Regions from separate parts of the Homo sapiens genome. Here region 1 is linked to region 2. Evidence: fine-mapped expression QTL. A gene starts in region 2. The other region holds a variant in brackets. All regions are shown on one strand. Distances are from middle to middle. Region 1 overlaps IDH1 (isocitrate dehydrogenase (NADP(+)) 1). Region 2 holds the start of PIKFYVE (phosphoinositide kinase, FYVE-type zinc finger containing).

The links.
Region 1: its variant is fine-mapped to the expression of PIKFYVE in blood mononuclear cells (TOPMed, PIP 0.96). The same link has a PIP of 0.9 or more in fibroblasts.

The regions. Positions count from the first base shown.
Region 1 is chr2:208,238,421-208,251,668 of GRCh38, reverse strand. IDH1 (isocitrate dehydrogenase (NADP(+)) 1) reads left to right here. Exons shown (of 10, transcript NM_005896.4): 3 at 102-239; 4 at 3,009-3,300; 5 at 6,245-6,350; 6 at 8,065-8,242; 7 at 9,524-9,675; 8 at 11,666-11,806; 9 at 12,436-12,598. The coding sequence starts at 118. Among named protein-coding and RNA genes, the nearest start is that of IDH1, 10 kb to the left of the region's middle. The variant A/G (reference allele first, on the strand shown) is at 7,710.
Region 2 is chr2:208,259,165-208,270,967 of GRCh38, reverse strand. PIKFYVE (phosphoinositide kinase, FYVE-type zinc finger containing) reads right to left here and starts at 4,713. Exons shown (of 42, transcript NM_015040.4): 1 at 4,553-4,713. It also overlaps the pseudogene MYL6BP1. RefSeq lists enhancers at 992-1,493, 4,827-4,876 and a silencer at 4,427-4,696.

The DNA.
Region 1 (13,248 bases), 20 kb after region 2:
TTTAGTAGTCACTACGTTGTTTATATAAACACTACGTTGTTTATATATTTCACTTTATAATGAAATAAATGACAAGGCATGTATTTTTTTTTTCTTTTTAGGTTTATTGAAGTCAAAATGTCCAAAAAAATCAGTGGCGGTTCTGTGGTAGAGATGCAAGGAGATGAAATGACACGAATCATTTGGGAATTGATTAAAGAGAAACTCATTTTTCCCTACGTGGAATTGGATCTACATAGGTAAATGAGTTACCCCTCCGTGTAGCAAACTCAGAAAGGATAATCTGGCTGGGCATGGTGGTGCACACGTGAAGTCCCAGCTACTTAGGAGGCAGAGGCAGGAGGATCCCTCAAGACCAGGAATTCAAGTCCAGCCTGGGCAACAGAGTGAGACCCCATCACTTTAAAAAAAAAAGGAAAAAAAAGGGAAGGAGAAACAGGAAAAAAAAAAAGAATATAATCTGAATTATTTTGAGGTGAAGTTAGCTTTTTTTATATAGATATAGCTGTGTTTTGTGAATAAAGTTTGTTTTAAGCCTAAATATATTCAGATGAATCTTCTAATTTTAACATACTGCTAGAAAAACTGGATTTATCATCTAAAAGTCAAGAATTATAAGGGAAAGAATGATTTTCAGATTCTTCTAACCTTCTGTTTCCTGTGAAGGTTTTATTTGTAATAAAACAGTGGCTAAGAATAGTACAATGTATTGAGAAAAGGGAAATAAGAGAGGATGTAAGAAACAGTAAACTAAATGCAGTTAACACAATTTTGTCATTTCAAACTCAATTTTCTATCACTTTACTTAGTCAATGGACCTGTTTCCTTTTCATGCCTCACCTTTTGCCCTTTTCATACAATTGTAGTGCAGAAAGAATTCATGATGTTTCTTAGTTGAACCCCTCCTTTCCAGCAAAATTCCCTTAAATCCTGTGTCCCTTTGCCCTGTGTGTAAAGTGCCTGGGGACAGATGCAAAAGTCTATGTAATTCTCTCATTTTTTTCGCTGTGTTTTTCATAAACTTGCTTCTGTTCTTTGTACCTTTAGGTAGAGATAGAATTTTTAAAAGGGTAAAGTGGCTGAAGACTGGCATAGAAAAATATTGAGCAACACGTTTCAGCCAAACTATTGGCAACTCTAAGTGTGTTTGCCTCAGCCCAGAATTAGTCATCAAAATTTGTCCTAAGGACCTGTTTGAGTGGAGACATTTAATTCACATAATGTCATTAAACATACTTTTTAATTGTTCTAAACCTAAGCTGCTGATGTCTATATTGAAATCATGATAAGATATAAATACTTGCAGAAGTCAACCAAACATAAGAAATTAGGCATAAAAACATCTTCCAACTAGGTTAAAAAAAAAAAGCATCTTAGGAACTCCTGTTTCAGGACTTTACATGACAGTAGGTGAACTGGCAGGGTTCTTTTCCTTATAATGGCTGCAACTAAAGATGCTTTGAGCCTCTTTAGTGTGGAATCATGAGGAGTTTTAAAGGGGAGTCACTATGACTAGGAGGAAAAAATTTGGTGGCTGCAGACTAGATAATTTTTGGAGGCTCAAACAAGTTTTAAATTTTTCCAAAATTCCTATTATTATCACTGACTGGTTCTTTTTCAGGAGAATGGAGCAGGTAGTTTGTTTTATGTAGGCTGGACAGTGGTCTGGGCAATTTGTTCCTTCCTTTCTTATCTTCTTAGAAATGTTAAGAAGACAAGCAAAAAATCTAATAATTTGCTGATAGATTCTCCTTATGAGAAATGGTTCCTAGGAACTTGAAAACTACTGATCATACTTCCTGTTGGAGTTGGGATTGGATCAACATTTCCTATGCAAGAAGATAACAAAGGACATGACTTTGTTAGATTTATATGAATTATCTAAAGTCGAAGCAGTTGGAAGTTATTTTTATTTGGAAATATGTCAAGATTACTATCTCTTTGTTTGCATCATGAGTTGGGTAGGAGATCTAAGAAAGGAAGATAAGGGAACCAAAAAGAAATCTAGAGGCAGGTTTTAAGAGCTGAAAAACCTTTTAAATCCTTGGAGAACAGAATAAACAAAACATTATTTTGTTTTCTTGCTTTTTAACAAACTATTGCATGCTTCAAATAAAGCTTTGCAGTCATTTTCTATGCTCCCTGGACAACTAACATTCTTTCAGCTCTGAATGACCTGCAATCTTTGTGTTGGTGTATATTAAGCTATTACTCTCTGGTATGTAGAAAACCATTGATGGATTCCTTTACTTACCCAATAAATTGTAGGCTTGTTTCCAGAGCAAACACTTGCTCAAGAATTACAGAAGGAATTAGCTGGGCATGGTGGTGCATGCCTGTAGTCCCCGCTACTGGGGAGGCTGAGGCGGGGGAATCACTTGAACCCAGGAAGGCAGAGGTTGAGTGAGCCAAGATCGTGCCACTGCACTCCAGCCTGGGCAACAAAACGAGACTCATCTAAAAAAAAAAAAAAAAGGGAAAGGCTCATTTTATGACTAACTGGCATTAATGAAGTAGTCATTCGCATTTTTGGCATCAACTGTCACATCTTTACCTCCCACCACTTCAACGTCAAAATACAAAAAATCCTTTAACCCCTCCCACCCCCTTTTATTTTTAAAGAGCAATATTTACTAAGGGAAAAAGGTGGTCCTTAGACTTACACTTATTATACTAATTATATGGAGAGAAACCAGGCCATTATTGCCTCTATCTGGTGAAAAACAGGAGGCAAAGGGCAGAGTTTGATGGTTTCCATTCATTTTCCTGATAGACAGCTTCCCATTACAAGAGGAGGGGCAGCCCAGCAGTCTAGCCTCTCTTAGTTCTCTTTGTAGTTGGCACCCATCTTCTGTGTTTAGGGTGTGCCAGTGCTAAAACTTGGCAGATTTTGGTGTACTCAGAGCCTTCGCTTTCTGCATAATGAGCTCTATATGCCATCACTGCAGTTGTAGGTTATAACTATCCATTTGTCTGAAAAACTTTGCTTCTAATTTTTCTCTTTCAAGCTATGATTTAGGCATAGAGAATCGTGATGCCACCAACGACCAAGTCACCAAGGATGCTGCAGAAGCTATAAAGAAGCATAATGTTGGCGTCAAATGTGCCACTATCACTCCTGATGAGAAGAGGGTTGAGGAGTTCAAGTTGAAACAAATGTGGAAATCACCAAATGGCACCATACGAAATATTCTGGGTGGCACGGTCTTCAGAGAAGCCATTATCTGCAAAAATATCCCCCGGCTTGTGAGTGGATGGGTAAAACCTATCATCATAGGTCGTCATGCTTATGGGGATCAAGTAAGTCATGTTGGCAATAATGTGATTTTGCATGTTTTTTTTTTCATGGCCCAGAAATTTCCAACTTGTATGTGTTTTATTCTTATCTTTTGGTATCTACACCCATTAAGCAAGGTATGAAATTGAGAAATGCATATATGTATAACTGTATATTTACACACATTTAGCTAAAGGCAAATACAAATAAACTTACAAATAGGCGTCCATCTCAACACATTTTTTTTCAAACATGCTGTTTTTTTTCCTTTATCCTTTTATTCAGTTATACCATATGATATTGCCATTTTTATGTTGGTAATTTCATATGGTTCAACCAGATCTGTGGTTTTCAACACTGGCTGCACAATAGGATCCCCTTACAAGTTTTTTTGGTGGTTTTGTTTTGCTTTGCTTGATTTGTTTCTTTGTTTTAGTTTCAATGCTTGAGTACCACCCTACACAAATTAAAATCTGAATTCCATGGGGTTCAGGCATTTTAAAGCTCCCCAGGTGAATCTAATGTGCAAACTTGAGAACCACCAAAGATTGTATTAAACATGATCCCATCATGCATAAAAGAAAAAACTGGCTGGGTACTATGGTTCACACCTGTAATCCTAGCACTTTGGAGGCCAATTTGGAAGCACTGCTTGAGGCCAGGAGTTTGAGACTAGCCTGGACAACATAGCAGAACCCTGTCTCTACAAAAATGAAAAGTATTTCAATAATTATGTCAATTGTTCATGGAAGAGCCAGTTTTGTTTATTCATATACAAAGTGAGTAGGCGAAGCTGAGTGGGGTGGCATGTGCCTATAGTCCCAGCTACTTGGAAGGCTGAGGCCTGAGGATCCCTTAAGCCTAGGAGTTCAAGGTTACAGCTATGAGCTATGATCACACCACTGCCTACGCAACAGAGCAAGACCCTGTCTCGAAAAAGAAAAAGAAAAAAAAAACTGACTCGGTAGTTGAAAGCAGCCTTACTAAAGCATTCCTTCCTGCCTGGAAAAAAAGTATTGCTTCTTTACTTCTGTACCAGTACACTTGTTGCCAAATTAAGCAAAAAAACTGCCAAGTAAACAAAATCAAAGTTCAGTGTTGAAACTGAGGTTTCAGACTTTCACAGAAAGTAGTTTATGTCTTAAAAGGACCTTAAAAACAGGAATCTCTCATGCTGAAATCCAGAGGTTTTAATGTAGCCATCATTGAAAACAGTGTGTTGAGGGTAAACAGTTTAGTCCTTGAGGGGTCAGTTAACTTTGTTCCACTCTGTGGCTAAAACTATCCTTTCATCCTGGCCAAAGCCTTCAGAAATAGCTCCCAGGGGCCCAAGCAAGGGAAGGTAGATGGCAGTGGTGCAAACTCGCTAATCTTGTAAAAATCACCCTAGATTCTTTCCAGTTCAGTCGTGCCTTTTTTCTGCGTATATCCTTTTTGTTTTTTGTTTTTGAGACAGAGTCTCGCTCTGTCGCCCAGGCTGGAGTGCAGTGGTGTGATCTTGGCTCACTGCAACCTCTGCCTCCCGGGTTCAAGCAATTCTCCTGCCTCAGCCTCTTGAGTAGCTGGGATTACAGGCACATGCTACCATGCCCGGCTAATTTTTGTGTTTTTAGTAGAGACGGGGTTTCACCATGTTGGTCAGGCTGGTCTCAAACTCCTGACCTTGTGATCCGCCCGCCTCCGCCTCCGCCTCCCAAAGTGCTGGGATTACAGGCATGCCACCATGCCCGGCCTTCCTCTTTTTTTTTTTTTTTTTAATTATTTTGGCATCAGTCATTTGTAAAAATGGCCATTCTATTTATTAAAGTCCAGAAAGAGAATTTCAAACCTCAGGTTGATTCATGGACTGTTTAAATATACATAAACCTATACAAAGCATTTATGGTGCTTTGGTACCTCAGTTTCTCCCTTTTCAGAAATAGTAATAAATTACCACCCATATTTACTTTATGGATTTTATATGTCAAAAATGTTCTGTGTAAAGTAGGTGTTTAATCTTTATTGTTACTTACTGCTCTTTTACCAGTTGTTATTAGTATTTCTCTACACTTATAGATGTGGCCGGCACCTGCTGGTACCTAACTCTGCAAGTATCTGATTCAATTCATTGAAGAAGATACAATGCAGCAAAGACTTATGGATGTCTAGTATATGCCAGGCATATTATTCCACTGAGTAGCTGAGGCCCATGAGGGAGGTGCCTGTCCTTGAACAGCCCTTTCCTAAAAATCATCATCATCCCATTGTAGCTGCTCCCAGAATGATTTGATTGCTCCATATGAACAAGTCCTATAACACTAGTAACAATGATACCATGAGAGACCGAGCCCCGATGGCCTAAGTAAGGACGAGACCTCAAGTCCTTTGACCCTGGATGCATTATTTCTACTATATCATAGTTCCCTCCTTGTAAGACTGATGTAAGAATCAAATGAGATTATGCAAGTTAAGCATTTAAAGCATCTGGCATAGAGTAAGGACAAAGCATTAGCTACCTCAGTACTACAATTAGTATTGTTATCATCACCCTCTAGGGAGACTTCCCTGACTTCCTTCCATGGTCACCTCTTTTCCTCTGTCATCCTATAGTTTTTTTTTTTTTGGGGGGGGGGTCTAATACCCTCTTTTGGCATTTGAAAGCTCTTATATTGCTTTTCACTTATATATGTCTTTATAGGGTTGTAAACTTCCTAAAGGAAAGTGGCTTATGTTATTCTCTGTCCTCTTCAAATCAGTGCTCAGAAAACTTTCCTATACCTCGTATAGGCACCTAATAAATATTTACTGATTTAGGGGAATGTCTGGACCTCTTCATCCCCATCTCCTAAAAAAAAAAAAAAAAAAAGAAGTTTGACATACTGCCCTATTTGTCTAGGTGTCTTCTAGGTCTATATTATATGAATATTCTCCTTACAATTCCTGCTAGGGTATTTTTTTTTTCTTTATACCTTTTTCCCCTCTACACAGTACAGAGCAACTGATTTTGTTGTTCCTGGGCCTGGAAAAGTAGAGATAACCTACACACCAAGTGACGGAACCCAAAAGGTGACATACCTGGTACATAACTTTGAAGGTATGTATGACTGTAGCATAAGCTTCTTTTTTTTTTAAACAAATGATTTAGATAATATTTTTATTGCTTTTTTTGTTAGTTATGTGACTGCCTAAAAATATAATCTGAATCTACAGTGTTTTTGCAAAACCCGAAACTTGACATAAAGAAGTAATTTGCTTCCATACCTTCCTGTGGCATGAATAAAGGCACAAAAGGGTTACCCACTTAATTGGAAATGCCTTTAGGCAAAGACAAGGAGATGATTATGCATTTATCTTAAAGCACAGAGAGAAGGTTGGCAGAAATCTGCTGTGCATGAATTATATACATTAAATATTAATATTCTCAAATCACCCAGCATATAATCCTGCCCTTTGCTCTGGTAGGGCTCTTGTATCTGGAAGAGGTTTCCTTATATATTTGCTGAAGTTTTCTTCTTGCCCTTCTGGGTATTTATCCTGTGAAAAAGTAGAACATTTGCTTTTTGCCTTTTCTTTCCCAGCTACCCTGCTACCTTTGATGGCAAATCCCACCCAAAAGTTGTTGAAATAATTAGTGGGCCCTTTTCCTTCACTATTGAAGTTGTTGAAAGCACTCACACAAACAAAAATACCCAACACTCACCTACCTTTTGTTTTTCTTGCCTCTTCCAAATAATATCTGTTGGAATCTGGTTCTGCAGGCTTCAGCACCTTTCACCCTGAACCCAAGTTAACCCTGAGCATTGGCATGGATTCAAGTTCTATCTTTAAGTAATAACAAAGTTCAATAATAGTTGTAAAACACAGTGATTACATGTAGCATAATTATTTCTACTTATTTCTACCAACTACAGTAGGAGTGCTCAGTATCCTCCAGGAGATTATAAGAATTTTCATTCAGTATTTGAAATTTAAGTTTTTCTCAATAACTGAGGATTGAGTACACCCCTAAAGTTTAAAATAGATGTTGGGAATTGTAAAGGTAGGGTGTTTGTCCATTCTTGCGTTGCTATAAAGAAATACCTGAGGCTGCGTAAGTTATAAAGAAAAGAGGTTTAATTGGCTCATGGTTCTGCAGGCTGTACAAGCCTGGCTCCAACACCTGTTCCTGGTGAGGGCCTCAGGAAGCTTCCAATCTTGGCAGAAGGCAAACAGACAATAGGTGTATCACATGGCAAGAGCGGGAACAAGAGAAAGAGAAGGGGGAGGTCCCAGACTCTTAAACAACCAGATTTCAAGTGAATTAACTGAGCGAGAACTCACGTAATCACCAAAGGGGATGGTCCTAAGCCATTCATAAGGGATCCAACCCCATGTTCCAATCTCCTCCCACTGGGCCCCACCTCCAACACTGGGAATCACATTTCAACATGAGATTTGGAAGGGACAAATATCC[A/G]AACCATATCAGTATGTAAAAGAAGTTTCAAAATTATTTGCCTTTTCTTAAATGTATTTCTGGTTCATATCAGTTTTTGGCATTTCTGCATCTTCAGGATTTTAAAGACTGTATGTTTTTTCATTTCTGCTGTCCTTCCAAAACAAGTTAGAATGTCCTTATCTAGAACTGGCTTTTCTCTCATTATGTGCCTCAGAAATTTGTTGGAAACCTGTCTGGGACTTCTGAAATCTAGTCTCAGATGTGAGAGCTGAGAAGTAGGTCATTTGGTTGTGGTGGGTGATTTTAGCCTTATTACAACTACATTACATTTATTCTTCTCCCTTTTTTCCTCTCACTGGCTTCTCCTCTACAGAAGGTGGTGGTGTTGCCATGGGGATGTATAATCAAGATAAGTCAATTGAAGATTTTGCACACAGTTCCTTCCAAATGGCTCTGTCTAAGGGTTGGCCTTTGTATCTGAGCACCAAAAACACTATTCTGAAGAAATATGATGGGCGTTTTAAAGACATCTTTCAGGAGATATATGACAAGTAACTATAGTTCTTTTTTAACTTTTTCTTTATTCTCAAGTAAGCTGACATTTGCATATAGAGTATGTATCTCCCTATCCCTATGATTCTGGGTAAATTGAGTGAAAATCATCACTGTCTCTTAAAGATAAGGGCAAAACTGAGGTTTAGCAGGAGTGAAACAAAACCACTCTGACTTGCTTTTATAAGATAAACATGTTCTTAAATAAGGTCCCCACATGAATTGTTTTCAGAGCCAGGTTCTTTAATGTTTAAATAAACGTACGCTGTTAGTGATAAGTTCTAATTTTTCATGTGTGAGTTTCTAAGTCAGACCCATTTCCATTCTTTCTGAAGCCCATTGTTAGAATTTAAAATTCTGTTGGCCAGGCACGGTGGCTCATGCCTGTAATCCCAGCACTTTGGGAGGCCGAGGCGGGCGGATCACGAGGTCAGGAGATCGAGACCATCCTGGCTAACACGGTGAAACCCTGACTCTACTAAAAATACCAAAAATTAGCCGGGCGTGGTGGCGGGCGCCTCTAGTCCCAGTTACTGGGGAGGCTGAGGCAGGAGAATGGCGTGAACCCGGGAGGCGGAGGTTGCAGTGAGCCGAAATCACGCCACTGCACTGCAGCCTGGGCGACAGAGCGAGACTCCGTCTCAAAAAAAAAAAAAGAAAAGAAAAGAAAAAAAAGAATTTAAAATTCTGTTTTAGTGGAGTCATTTGAACTTAAGTCTAAGTTTATAACAACACTGGCTTCCACAGCACAGGAGGTGAGCATGTGTTAATATTTAAGATTGGCATAACTCCCTTTAGGTGCAAGTGTTCAGGCCAAAATGTTCCTGAGGCATTTTGATTCCTCCTCCTGCTGCCCATCTATACCAAGCCCAGAAACTGTCTGGAATATATTTTAGTTTCCTGAATGACACCAAGAAGTAGAACAGTCTTTTCAAAAATGTATTTTAAAAATAAGCTGAATCTCAAGAATCTGATCTATAGTATAATGAAAACTGAAAAGTGAAGTAGTCATTGGGATACTCTACTGTCTCACTTAATTCTCACGGCTTCCCTGCAAGGTGGGTAAAATTGTTCCTACAGATAGTCAAATTGAGTTTTACAGTTAGAAAATGATTGGGCTAGGATTTGAGCCAATGTCTGTCAGATTCCTGAGTTTCTGCTACTTCTACTAAAATATGCTGCTTCTTGTGTGTCCGGTCTTCTGTTTGGGACAAGCAGATGATATCCCTAACAAAATCAATTTTCTTTATTATTATTCTCTTTTACCTTTTGTTTCCCAGGCAGTACAAGTCCCAGTTTGAAGCTCAAAAGATCTGGTATGAGCATAGGCTCATCGACGACATGGTGGCCCAAGCTATGAAATCAGAGGGAGGCTTCATCTGGGCCTGTAAAAACTATGATGGTGACGTGCAGTCGGACTCTGTGGCCCAAGGTACAGAGGTGGAGCCTGGCCTGTAGGAACAGGGTCATTCCAGGGTAGTTCTCTAATTTGGGAAGGGGAGTTTTGTAGTCCTTTGTTGTAAAATCTTGGAATGTTAAACCTCCAGGTCCACCGTCTTACCTGACAGCTAAGGAAATTAAGCTCAGACTAGAGAAATGATTTACTCAAGACCACATGGGAAGTAAATTAGTGGATTGACACTCCTGGCTCCAGTGTCACTCCTTGAAGTTTTAAAGCCTACCTGATCTGAAAATCACTCCCTTTCCCTGCCCTCCTTGTCCTTTGGTGAAAATGTAAAAAACCAGGGCACTCAGGCAAGGAGGGATAAAGTGAGGAGCTTGATCATGTCATAACCAAGCTTTGGTGCCTGCAAAGCTCATTTATTGGGCAGCAGGACCTACTCATGTCCCTCTGCCAGCTGCTGTTCTGGTAGAATATAAAACAAATGTGTTTGGCTGGGCACAGTGGCTCACGCCTGTAATCCTAGCACTTTGAGAGGCCAAGGCAGTGGATCACTTGAGGCCAGGAGTTCAAGACCAGCCTGGCCAACATAGCAAAACCCCATCTCTACTTCAAAAAAAAAAAAAAAAAAAAATTAGCCAGGTGTGGTCGCATGCCTATAGTCCCTGGCACTCAGGAGGCTAAAGCATGAGAATTTCTTGAGCCTGGGAAGCGGAGGTTGCAGTGAGCTGAGATCACGCCACTATACTCCAGCCTGGGCAACAGAGCAAGACTCTTGTCTCAACAACAACAAAGAAAAAGTGTTTTTGTTTACTGCTTAGCTTACACACAAATCAATTGAGCAAAGAACCCTAGGGGCTGTTTACAGAAATTCCAGGAGAAGTTTCATGCATGGGGTAAGGGCCAAATCAACAGAAACACAGCGCCTGGTTTCCTCAGCACCAAGTTGCCCTTCAGTTTCAGTTGCCCTTGGTAGCTGTATGAACTTGAATCTCCCCAGATGAATGTTTGTTAACTTTAATTATGTTTGTTTTTCCCAAGAAGTACTACTTTTTCTGTCTCTTATCAGTGTTAAACATCTCCTCTCAGTTTGAAAATCAGTAGATCAACCTGGTTAAAGATAACTTTTTGCCAGATAAATGAGTTACACAACTCTCCTTACCATCCTTCTGTTTCTCTACATCCTCACAATCATTTGTACTGAATGCAACAGAGGAAGGAGTGTTATTGCTTTGTGATGACTCCGTGGTTGATTATTAACTTCACAGGTGATGTTGGGAGGTAGCAAAAATGGAGAAAAGAAGAAAATCAATTATATAGATATAAGAGTTGTAATGTGGTTCTTTCAATAAGAAACCACAGAAGAGAACTGTTGTACTGAGGGTATGAAAGAGAGCGAGGAAGGGCAACTGGGATGTTCTTAGATCCAACCGATCCTGTGTTTACCTGCCTTCTCTTCCCAGTCCCAGCAAGTGTATGAGCAGCTTGAGGGTTCTTAAGAGACAGCTCTCGTCCATCTTTATTTCCCCAGAACAGCAGAGCATTGCACATAAGAATAACAATAATAGATTGAGCTCTGTGTCCAGTACTATTCTAAGGAATATAAATATATATTCATATATATTTATGAATATATGTATATTTATCTAATCCCACAGCAACCTAGTGAAGTAGGTGCTGTTATTACTCCCATTTTACAGATAAGAAAACTGAGCCGCAGTAGCTATGAAGTCATAGAACTAGAGTGGAATGTAGGCAGTTGGACCCTGAACCCTCCATCAAGGAGTAGGTATCCCTGAAATAAGTGAGGGGAAAATGCAGCCTTTCCAGACCCATTGGCTCTGATATCTGGAGCGGGGATCCTGCCTTCTGAAAGGCAGAATTATTGGTGATTCCATGTGCTCTTGTTTACTTTGCTTACCAAGACCTATCAAGATTGAGTCATTTATGCTCTCATCTCTGAGAGACTCAGTGCTCTTCATGCAGTTGGACCCAACGCTTCATGCTCCACTACTTACAGGGTATGGCTCTCTCGGCATGATGACCAGCGTGCTGGTTTGTCCAGATGGCAAGACAGTAGAAGCAGAGGCTGCCCACGGGACTGTAACCCGTCACTACCGCATGTACCAGAAAGGACAGGAGACGTCCACCAATCCCATTGGTAAGATGGTGTTTACATTGATTTCTCACCAGAGAGTGCTCTCCAAAGCAGCCCAGATGTGTTCCCTTGGCTGCTCAGTGTTTTGTGTGCAAAGTCATCACCAAGTAGCTGATTTGTTCTACTAGTAAGATCTATTTGAATATGCTTCTTAAAATATACAATATTTGCTTTTCTGTTTTGTGGGAGAACATAGGTTACAGAGAGGAATGTTATCAACAAGCATTTTCCTTTACCTCTGGTGCAGTGAAATGTCACATAAGGCTACAAATCTAAAAGTCACATGGATAGATCCTTTTAACAAGTTTCAAAGATAGCACTTCAAAAAGAGATTACAGCCTGGAAAAAGGAGACCAATATAGACAAGAGATAGAAGAGATTGTGACCTTTTTCAAATTAGAAAATGCCTTAAGTTTCAAACACTAGTACCATGCCATGAAAATGTGTTTTTTTAAAGTTTCTGTTTGGTAAAATATTTCTAACTCTCCTAAAACTTCTAGCCCATGTGGTTAGTATCTAAAGAAGTCTGTCACCTAAACAAAAAACTATTCTGTTTTGGGGAACTATGAGACATTTGGAAACCTCTATAACTAGGATGATTGGAGTGTTGTGTTTTTTTTCCCCTCTTTTAGCTTCCATTTTTGCCTGGACCAGAGGGTTAGCCCACAGAGCAAAGCTTGATAACAATAAAGAGCTTGCCTTCTTTGCAAATGCTTTGGAAGAAGTCTCTATTGAGACAATTGAGGCTGGCTTCATGACCAAGGACTTGGCTGCTTGCATTAAAGGTTTACCCAAGTAAGTATAAGATGCCCTAGTTTCTATGGTCAAATTAACACTTATCCTCACTGGGCTCAGAGCATCGGTGCTTTCTGGAATTATATAAATTGTTATTCATCATCTAGTTCAGGAGTCAGCAGATATCTGTAAATTGTCAGATAGTGAACATTTTAGGCTTTGTGGAACATATAGTCTTTTTGCAACTACACAACTATTCAACTTTGCCTCTGCCATTGTAGCAGGAAAGCAGTCATAGACAATACAGAATCAAATGGTGTGGCTGGTACCAATCAAACTTTTATGTTCAAAACCAGCCTCGATTTGGTTCATGTGCTGGGCTGTAATTTGCTGACATCCCATCTAGTTGATAATCATTGAACGAAAAGGTTCTATTTAATTTTAAGAAGCAGATTATAGACAAATAGAAACAAAGATACTTCAGAGGCTATTTTATTCTACTCCTTTATTTTCTTTAACTTACTGATGAGAAAAGTGAGCAGCACAAGTTTAAGGTGTGCAATTGATTACAGTCCCTTAAGTATCTGTAACCAATATTTGGGCAAATATTTGACAGCCCATATGTTTACTGAGAATTTTTCTGAGAACATAGTAGCCAGTATCCTGGGGGGATTGTCTCCATATCTCAACCAGTGCATCTGCAGAGGTCC
Region 2 (11,803 bases):
ACCTCCCAGGTTCAAGTGATCCTCCTGCCTCAGCCTCCTGAGTAGCTGGGACTATAGGTGCGCAGTCACCACGCCCAGTTAATTTTTTGTATTTTCAGTAGAGATGGGGTTTCACCATGTTGGCCAGGCTGGTCTCCAACTCCTGACTTCAGGTAATCCACCCGCCTCAGCCTCCCAAAGTGCTGGGATTACAGGCATGAGCCACCATGCCTGGCCTCAACTTTTATATTTTAAAAAGTAATATAAAAATCATTATATTTCTAAGACGAGGACATGAAAGTCATTCTCTAATGACATGTCTACAAAACTTTAACAATTACCTCAAGCTACACTTCATGACCTATGACAACTACTCAAATCAACAAGTTGTTCCCCACTATCTTTGCTCCTAAACACATGAACCTGGTTTTTCCTCCCTTTAAGCCTCAATTCATAGACATTAAGATGAAGATCTTCTTAAAGGGCTTTGTTTCTAAATAACCAAAAAATCATATTTCAACCAAAGCAATAAAGCTAACCACATCACCAGATGGAAGTTACAGAAAAGTACTATTTTCTGCCATATTGATTTATATTTCAAAGAGAAGAACCATGGATAACTCTAATCATTAAAATAATGTAGACTGGTCCAGGCACGGTGGCTCACACCTATAATCCCAGCACTTTGGGAGGCCGAAGTGGACGGATCACCTGAAGTCAGGAGTTCGAGACCAGCCTGGCCAACATGGTGAAACCCCATCTCTACCAAAAATACAAAAATTAGCTGGACATGGTGGCGGGTACCTGTAATCCCAGCTACTCAGGAGGCTGAGGCAGGAGAATCGCTGGAACCCAGGAGGCGGAGGTTACAGCGAGCCGATCACGCCACTGCACTCCAGCCTGGGCAATAAGAGCAAAACTCCATCCACAAAAAAAAAAAAAAAAAAAAAATACTGTAGTCTGGCCCAGACACGGACCCTGCAAGAGATGGGTGCCCCCATCCGCACACTGTCCTTTGGCCACCAGACATCATGCCTCCCAAGGATATTCTGGGAGGAACCAGCAGGGCCCTCCATCTCCAAAGGTGCTGCCAAGCCAGCAGCAGCATGGGCCCCTCCAGCCAAGACCAAAGCTGAGCCAGCTATCCCATCCCCCAGGCCCCTGAGAAAACCAAGGAGCCCCCAGTTGATCTCTCCAAAGTGGTGATCAAGTTTAACAAGGATCAGCTGGAGGAGTTCAAGGTGGCCTTCAAGCTGTTTAACTGAGTGGGGGATGGCAAGATCCCATACAGCCAGTTTGGGGACATGATGGGGGCCCTGGACCAGAACCTCACCAGTGCCAAGGTGATGAAGGTCCTGGGGAACCCCAAGAGTGATGACCTGAAGTCCCGGCATGTGGACTTCAAGACTTTCCTGCCCATGCTCCAGGCAGCAGCCAAGAAGCAGAACCAAGGCACATATGAGGACTACCTGGAGGGGCTTCATGTGTTAGTCAAGGAGGGGAACAGCAAAGTCACGGGAGCAGAGCTCAGACAAGTCCTCACCACCCTGGGAGGGAAGATGGCTGAGGAGGAGATGGAGACTGTTCTGGCAGGACATGAGGACAGCATCAACTAGGAGGCCTTCCTGAAACACTTCCTAAGCCTACTGAGCTCTGTAGATCCCTAGGGCCCAGACAATGGGCCCCCTGCAGGCAGAAGCATGTTCCAGCCACCAGGAGGCTACCTACTGTTTCAAAATAAAGACAAGGTTCCTCCCTTGGAGAAAACAATATATATACTATAGTTTATAATCTAGTCTCCACTTTACAAAGAGGACATTACAGTCTCGGTAAAATGCTTTTCACATTCAAAATCATAGCTACCATCTCATTTTACTCTTACAATCCTGGAAGGCACACACAGCTGGCTTTATGACATTTTACCTTTGAGGCAACCAAGGTACTCTGAACCTAAAACAACTTTCTTGGGGGTCACACAGACATTAGTAGAACTGTCACTATACCCCAAGTCTCACCCCAAAAGTATTACCTAAATCAAAATTACTTTTGTAGCTCTTCACACTTCCCTTTTAGCCTATCCGCGTTCTCTAACTACTTAAGGCTTTGTCTGATCAATAATTTAATTAATAAATTAAGGCAGAAATGAAACCACTGACTTAAACAGAATTTTGGCAATACATGTTTATTGGGGGGGGAAGAAAAAGAGGAAGAGGAAGGGGAAGGAAAGAGGAAGGAGAAAAGGAAGAAGAAGGGGAAGGAAGGTTTCTAATATCTTCCACTGAGAATAATCATCAACAATCCTTCTGAAGTGTCATGACAATTCAGCAAAAAGTGTTGGGAAGTAAGCTGATAACTGAATAAGTATACACTCAAAAAAAAGTTTGTGTTTTTTTTATATTAAAAAAAAAAAGAGGCCAGGCACTGTGGCCTCATGTCTGTAATCCCAGCACTTTAGGAGGCTGAGACGGGAGGATCGCTTGAGGCCAGGAGTTCCAGACCAGCCTAGTCAACATAGCGAGACTTCATCTCTATTTTATTTAGGGAAAAAAAAAAAAAAAAAAAAAAGAGCTCTGGAGAGAAACGATAATGTGATGGCCGTAACAACCACCCCTGGAAAACAGCCTACATTCTACTTTGACACAAGTAATGTCAGAGGCAGAGATGACATTCTGCCTAAAGAGTCTTAGAATTACTTCTAAAGGTTATCTACACAAAAATTATACTCGGCTTTGGAAATAAGAAGATAAAAATTCCCATGAAAACACTTAGCAAGTGTAGTCTCTGAAATATAAACCCAATCATATAGTTAACCCTAATAATTACATAATGACACTAGGGCCCTGAAAAAATTATCTTATAACTCTCACTCTTTAGCAGCTTAACAACGCTTTAAAATATAAATTAGGACTCTTTCCTGAGTGGTAATCAGTCCTATTAACCTACCTACCCAAAGCCTTCTGATATATCACCAATACTTCACCATTTCTAATTAAGGCTACTAATATATGCAGACCTACTACAAACTATCAGAAGCCAGTCAGTAAAGGCCGGACGTGGCTGCTCACACCTGTGATCCCAGCACTTTGGGAGGCCGAGGCAGGAGAATCCCTTGAGCCTGGGAGGCGGAGACTGCAGTAAGCCGAGATCACACCACTTCACTCCAGCCTGGGCGAGGGAGGGAGACCCCCGCCCGGTGGCTCACGCCTGTAATCCCAGCACCTTGGGAGGCCGAGGCGGGTGAATCGCCTGAGGTCAGGAATTCAAAACCAGCTTCGCTAACATGGTGAAACCCCGTCTCCCCTAAAAATACAAAAATTAGCCGAGTGTGGTGTCGCGCGCCTGCAATCTAGCTACTCAGGAGGCTGAGGCAGGAGAATCGCCTGAACCCTGGGAGGCGGAGGTTGCAGTCGGAGGAGATCGCGCCACTGCACTCCAACCTGGGGGACAGAGCGAGACTCTGTCTCTCAAAAAAAAAAAAAAAAAAAACTGGCAATGTAATAATTTAGGAAAGCTGAATATTGGAAATGTTAGCTTCTATCAACAAAGATTTCTTGTTCAATTTTTGACCAACACGCTTAAAGGAAAACCAGAGCAGGATCCAGAAAGCAGAAAAAGGGAGAACACAGGAAATTAGCCTTGCTCCACAGAAGAGATTTAACCTACACAATCTTTGTCACAAACACAAAAGAAAGAACATTTTTTGTAAGAAAACTGACAGAGTGGGAGTTTTGGAGTGCCAAAAAAGGGGCTCAAATAAATCAGAAATAAGTACATTATACCAAGCGACTACCTCTATTGTCAACACTGGACATATTTTACAACACAGGATGCACTGCGTCAATAGTAGATAATGAATCATGTATACACATCAGATACACACGAATAACTTGCTTTATACAGAATTCTAGCACTTCTTATATTTCTTGACTGTCTTAGGAATAACCTCTGATTGGGCAGAAAACCCCTAAGTCCTAAAAGTTTCCAACACATTCCATTCTCATCCTTTTGTTGGGAACATTCTAAGCAAAGGGTAAACACTAATTGGGAAATAATGCTCCTCCTCAAGAAACTCCAAAACCTAAGTTGAAATGGAATCGTCTCAAATAGCAGAGGCAAGCATTTAAAAAGACAAACACTTATTTGAACCCCCACGGTTGGTATCGTTTCTGCAGCTCATGAACTTTCTTTTCCAGCCTACGGATGCGCCTCTGACAAACTCAGAACTCATGCACTCAGAGGGAAAAGTAACTGTACTCTTCCCCTCCTAATTAAGTTCAGGCGTAAGGGTCGAGAGAGAGGCAAAGGAACTTCAAATGTTTCCAAGGAAATCTCAAGGGCCCCACCCGGCTTCCGTCCCCACTCGCCAGACAAGGCAGCCGGGGAATAGGGAGGACAAGCTAATTCTAAAGCCAGATTCTCTGCCCTTCCTTGCTCAGCCGGCAGCCAGGCCCTAGCCCCCGACTGCGGAGCCCTGGTTCTCACTTTCACCTCAGCTCTGGCCCTGGAGCTCCCCATACCGGCCTCCTTCCCATGCTGAGCCCCAGCCGGCCAAGCTCCAGGCCCCCTCCCTTACCTGCGCCTCCTGCCCCGGCCGCGCCGGCTGCCCCCCGCCCCAGCCTCCGCTTCAACGGCTCAGCCCCCGGAAGTCGGCCCCCGAGAGCGGCGGTGGGCTCCTCAGGCCGCGGACGGTTGCGGCAGGAAGCGAAGCTGCTTACATGGTTGATGCGGCTTCTCGCTTCCCCCCCCCAAGACTCCGCCCTCTGTTTTCCTGTCCCCCAGTCCGAAATCTTTCCCGGGGGCCGGCTCCTCCCAGCCCGGCCGACGCTCGGATCAGATGCTCAGGCAGAAGGAGTCCAGCCCAGATCGAGTCGTCCTGATCTTTTGGCCGAGATTAGGCCGCTTCAGCCTTCCTGGAAGAAGCCAGGGGGACTGCGCGCGTGAGCGTCACGCATGCGGGGTCAACGGATGGGTGCTTGGTGCTCTGGGCACTGCAGGGGTGCTGGCTGGACTGCGGTTACCGTATGTGTTCGATACTGTGGGCACTCATAATATGTTATTGCTTTGTTGTAGACAGTTCACTCGTGTAGCACTGAACCGGAGTTAGCGATGACTCTGTTTCCAGACTTGCATGACTCCACCAATAACCAGCCATATGATCTTAAGCAAATTGCTCATTTATTTAGGCCTTAGACCTCTGGTGTGTAAAGTCGGATTAATAAAAGGACTCACTTCTTAATACTTTTTTGAGATTAAGTAAATGCACTTAAAGCGAATGGCACAGTTCCCTGACCCAGAGTAAGTGATGTCGGCTTTATAGTTAATTTTTTCATTTAGGTGTTGTGTTGCAAATGCTGATGCAAATAAAGTTACCAAGCCCAAGCCCTATCTTGTTCAGCTTGGCTAGAGTTATTCGTCATTTCTGTCCTGCTGAGAGCGCAGTGCAGTTAACTGCAGAAAACATGCTCGCCGCAGTTGTGGGGCTTGGTAGGGGAGGATGGAAAGCAGACGAAACCTAAAGGGAAATGCAGTTTTAAATTCTGTGAGTCCTTTTCCTCAAGAGTTTTGTCAAATCCCAGCCCAGTTTTCCTGGAGTTGGAAAGCACCATCGAAACCTGCAGGTTGAGTCCAGTGCAAATCCCAGTCACCATCCTCAGCTGGGCCCTTCAGCAATCTTTCTGGGAGTCTGTAGTCAGCTTCTCCCATTCCTTATTACTGCTGCGTCAGACCACCACCACGACCCCCACATTACCTTGACCATCATTCTCATCAGAGAATCATATTTTATACCCACGTGAAAAATCCCAAGGTATCTGGGCGTGACCCTTAACAAGCTAATTCCCCACACACCACAACATTTACCTACATCCACATCTGCCCTGGTCTGCCTTTCTCCCTCATCTCTCTGAGGAAGGGGCCTCTTCTTCCCCAGCTCAATCCTTTTGGCCCCCAATTCACCCTCTCCTGTCTGGGAGCTTGCACCGTATCTGCAACCTCCCCTTTTCCAATGACTCTGCCTCCTCAGCCCATAAAGATGCTCAAGTCTCTGCCTTCCTTTAAAAAAATTTTTTTTAAAAATTTAAGATAAGCAAAAAAGGCCCTCGTAATTATCACCCTATGTTAATATTTCATAAACCTACAATAAAGTATGAAATAGGTACAGAGATCATATGAAAAGAATAAATTGCCCAGCCACGACGACTGCAGTGTATGTAGAAACTCCATCTATGGTTTAAAAAAAAAAAAAAAAAGTGCACTCCGCAAATATTTTTGAGTCCCTAATTTAACCTGCAGTGTGTTAGTTATAGAAGCACTACACTAAGGATAGAATTATGAACGTATCCCACTGCTTCACTTGACTAGCCTAAAAAATAAAAATATATGTGAACATTACACAGTCCATGTCCTCAAGAAGCTTACCGTCTAATATCTATATTAGCTTACAGTTTAATTTCTGTGGAAAAGAGATTGAAAACTGGGCTACTGTTTTTGCAAAAGAAATCATTTTAGATTCTCACTTCACACTAGACATCCAAAATTAATTCCAGATGAATTTTATCTGTAGAGAGATTATTTGTCTGTGTATATATCCTCCTCAAAAACTTTCATTCAAGCACAGATTTAGGATTCTTGCTGAATCAATTATTGTTCGATGATATTATACTTCTATTCCTCTGTATGTATTAGTTGAATTTTACTGCAACTAATAGCGTTCCATCTTTTTCTTTCTTTCTTTATATTGGTTAGTATGACTTTGGACTCATTTTTTTCCAACATGTTATAGTTCATTACTGCCACTATTCATTTCTGTGCTCCAGGTGTCCCCGCCTTGGCTGGTGTGAGCCCCTTCCAGCAGACTCCTGAGTCCATTTGACATGCCTCCATTACCTTTTGAGCACATCTTACTTTTTGTTCTTTTTCTCTCTCCGCCACCCCTTACCCCTGGCAACCACCATTCTACCCACTACTTCTATGAGTTCAACATTTTTAAATTCCATATATATGAGATCTTGTGGTATATTTCTGTGTCTGGTTTATTTCACTTAACATAATGTCCCCAGGTTCATCCATGTTGTCACAAAAGACAGAATTTCCTTATTTTTTAAGGCTGAATAATGTTCCACCGTATATATATACCACATTTTATTTTATTTTTTTGACATGGAGTCTGTCACCAAGGCTGGAGTACAGTGGTGCAATCTGGGCTTACTGCAATCTCCACCCTCTGCCCCAACCCCCCCGACCTCCACCCCACCCCTATTCTCCTGCCTCAGCCTCCCGAGTAGCTGGGATTACAGGCGCCTGTCACTGCACCTGGCTAATTTTTGTATTTTTAGTAGAGACGGGGTTTCACTGTCTTGGCCAGGCTGGTCTTGAACCCCTGACCTCGTGATCCACCTGCCTCAGCCTCCCAAAGTGCTGGGATTACCGGCGTGAGCCACAGTGCCCAGCCCCACATTTTCTTTATTCAGTTGTTCATTGATGGACACTTAGGTTGATTTCATATCTTGGCTATTGTGAATAATGCTGCAATAAAGATGGGAGTGCAGATACCTCTTAAAAATAGTGATTTTGGCTGGACACGGTGGCTCGCGCCTGTAATCCTAGCACTTTGGGAGGCCAAGATGGAAGGATTGCTTGAAGCCAGGAGTTCAACACCAGCCTGGTCAACATAGCAAGACCCCATCTCTATAAAAAGATTTTTTTTAATTTCAATAAAAGAAAAAATAGTGATTTTATTTCCTTTGGATATATACCCTGTAGTGGGATGGCTGGATCACATGATAGTTTTATTTTTAAATTTTTTGGCAACTTCCATACTGTTTTCCATAATGGCTGTACTAATTTGCATTCCTACCAACAGTGTGCAAGGGTTTCCTTTTCTCTATTTTCTCTCCAATCTTGTTATCTTTTGTCTTTTTGATATAGCCATTGTAATAGGTGTGAAGTGATATCTCTCATTGTGGTTTTAATTTGCATTTGTCTGATGATTAATTACGTTGAACTTTTTTTCATATACCTGTTGGCCATTTGTATGTCCTCTTTTGAGAAATGTCTATTCACATCCTTTGCCCATTTTATAATCAGATTATTTGCTTTCTTACTATTGAGTTGTTTGAGTTCCTTATATATTTTGGATATTATCCCTTTATCAGATGTATGGCTGGCAAATATTTGCTCCTGTTCTCTGTTGTCTCTTCAGTCTGTCTATTGTAACCCTTGCTCTGTAGAAACTTCTCAGTTTTATGTAATCCCATTTGTCTATTTGGCTTTTGTAGCCTGTGCTTTTGGGGTCATATCTAAAAAATCACTACTCAGACCAATGTCATGGAGCTTTTCCCTCTCGTTTTTTACAGTTTCAGGGGGTACACATAACGTCTTCAATTTATTTGAGTTGATTATTATATATGGTATGAGATAAGCCTCTAATTTCATTCTCCTGCATATGGATATCCCATTTACCCATTACTACTTATTGAAGAGAATATCCTTTCCCTATAGTGTATTCTTGTCCCCTTATTGAACAATTGACTGTAAATGGGTAAATTTACTTCTGGACTCTTTATTCTTTTTTTCACTTTTTATTTTTTTTTAAAAATGAGCATCCTATTAACTGATAGACTCTTTATTCTGTTCAGTTGGTTTGTCTGTTTCTCTGCCAGTACCATGCTGTTCTGATTACTGTAGCTTTGTAGTGTATTTTGAGATCAAGCAGTATGATGCTTCTAGCTTTGTTCTTTTTGCTCAAGAATTCTTTAGCTATTCAGCCTCTTTTGTCATTCCATAGGAATTTTAGACTTTTTTTTCTAGCTGTGCGAAAAAGTCATTGGAATTTTTATAGGGATTGCATTGAATCTGTGGATCACTTTGGACATTTTAACAATATTAATTCTTTCAACCCATAAACATGAGATGTCTTTTTATTTATTTCTGTCTTCTTCAGTTTCTTTCATCAATGTTTTATAGGTTTCAGTGTGCGGGTCTTTTACTTCTGTTAAATTTCTTTCTTTTTTTTTTTTTTTTTTTTGAGATGGAGTCTCACTGTGTCACCCGGGCTGGAGTGCAGTGGGGCCATCTCGGCTCACTGCAACCTCCGCCTCCCAGGTTCAAGCAATTCTCCTGCCTCAGCCTCCTGAGTAGCTGGGATTACAGGTGCCCACCACTACGCCCAGCTAATTTTTTTGTATTTTTAGTAGAGACGGGGTTTCACCATGTTGGCCAGGCTGGTCTCAAACCCCTGACCTCGTGCTTCGCCTGCCTTGGCCTCCCAAAGTGCTGGGATTACAGGTGTGAGCCACCACACCTGGCCCGTATTTATTTCTAAGTATTTTAATATATTTTTGTAGCTATTGCAAATAGGATTGTTTTATTGATTTCTCTTTCAGATAGTTCACTGTTAATATTTGGAAACAGTACTCATTTTTGTATACTGATTTTATATCCTACAACATTACTAAATTTGTTTATTCTAATAGTTTTTTGGTGCAGTCTTTAGGGTTTTTTATGTATAAGATCATGTAACCTGCCAGGTGTGGTGGCTCACGCCTGTAATCCCAGCACTTTGGGAGGCAGAGGTGGGCAGATCATGAGGTCAGGAGTTCGAGACCAGCCTGGCCAACATGCTGAAACCCCATCTCTACTAAAAATAGAAAAATTAGCCAGGCATGGTGGCGCATGCCTGTAGTCCCAGCTACTCAGGAGGCTGAGGCAGGAGAATTTCTTGAACCCAGGAGGCAGAGGTTGCAGTGAGCCGAGATCTCACTGCTGCACTCCAGCCTGGGTGACAGAGTAACACTCTGTCTCCAAAAAAAACAAAAAAATCATGTCATCTGCAAACAGGTACAATTTAATTTCTTCCTTTTCAATTTGGATGCCTTTTATTTCATTCTTTTGCCTAATTGCCCTGACTAGGACTTCTAGTACTATGTTAAATAGAAGTGGCAAGAGTGCATGTCTTGGTCGTGTTCCTGACCTTAGAGGAAAAGCTCTTTTTTACTGTTGAAATGATGTTAACTGTTGGTTTGTCATATATAACCTTTATTGTGTTGAGGCATATTCTTGCTATACCTAATTTGTTGAGAGCACTTCCTTACTTTTTGACCCAGCAGGCTCATCTTGAACTTTCCCTGCCCCGGGCCTAGAATCAATCAGCTCTCAAAGGAGCACCAATTCCTTTTAGTAGGGATGCAGACATGTTTGTAAAAATTATGAAACTAAGTTCCAGCTAGGATGCAATAAAATTAGCACTCTCTTACACTGCATGTGAAAATATAAATTGGTATATTCCCCCCTAGAAAATGATTTGGTGGATTTAACAAGCACCTTAAATATATTTATACTTCATGATCTAATAATTCCCATTCTAGCAATGTAGCCCAAAGAATTGATCTGTGTTTTAAAAAAGGAAGATAAAGACATTTGTCACAGCCATTTAAACATTAAAGAAACAAAAAGGAAACATCCAATACAAACCAACACAAATGACATGAAAGCAATATAATCAAATCCATTCTAACCAACACAACCAACATGGAAGTAATACAAATAATTTTTTAAAATATGTAGACATCAATAGTATGTTGACTAAGACTTTTAAAAGCATTTTTCCGCCAGGCGTGGTGGCTCACGCCAGTAATCCCAACACTTGGGGATGCCAAGGCGGGCAGATCACTTGAGGTCAGGAGTTCAAGACCAGCCTGGCCAATATGGTGAAACCCCATCTCTGCTAAAAATACAAAAATTAGCCAGGCGTGGTGGCCCGCGCCTGTAATCCCAGCTGCTCAGGAGACTGAGGCAGGAGAATCACTTGAACCGTAGAGGTGGAGGTTGCAGTAAGCCAAGATCGTGCCACTGCACTCCAGCCTGGGTGACAGAGCCAGACTCCGTATCAAAAATAAAAAAGTGTTTTTCTTCACTTTACAATCAACCTTCTTGAAAAGGTTTTCTTGTCTCCCTTTCCATACCCCCCATTCATGCTTCAGTCCCCTGTAGTATGGCTTCTATCTTCTGATCCTCGTAGAACCATTCCACTTCTATCTTCTTCATCCTCATAGAGCCTTTTTACTAAAAGTGCATTCAAGAGGTTTTCCTTTTGCCAAAATTATTTTCAGACCCTGTCTTTTTCTTTTAATCTCTCTGTAGTACTCCCTCTTTTTTGAAAACTTTCTTGTCTGTTGGCTTCTATGACATCAGGCTCTGCTGATTCTTTGTTAACCCCCAGACTCTCCTTCTCATTCTCTTTGTGGGGGCTCCTTTTCCTCTACCTGACCTTTAAGACGTAAGTGTCCCTCAGAGTTCTCACTGAGATTGACTTTTCTCCTTACTTTGAAGTCCTAGATAATATATACTCTGTCTTCAACTGTTATCAAGACATGCTAAAGATTCCCAAATTTCTTTCTCCAGCCCACCCTTTCTGAACTGCAGATGAGGCCAACTGCCTCCTGGACATCATCTTGCTGTCCCATGGCATCGCAAAGTTAAGAAACCTTAAACTTAACCCATGATCTTGGCCATCAGATCTGTGACTCTATGTATATTCCTTCTTTGTTGAACTGCACCTTGTCTCCCAAACTCCAAATTCAGAATTCCCTTTTGCCGTTCTCTCTCTCATAATCTTCATGGACAATCAATGACCAAGCTCTATTCATTCTACCTCAGTTTTTTTTCGATAATCAAAATGAAAATACAACCACATTAGAATATTTATGAGAATCCCATTATCTGGATGAGTGTGTCAAAACCAAATGCTTACAGAAATTTCATGGCCTGTGTTTCCATTTGTGTTTATAACAGTATTTGGGGCCAGACTATTAAAATACTCAGATTC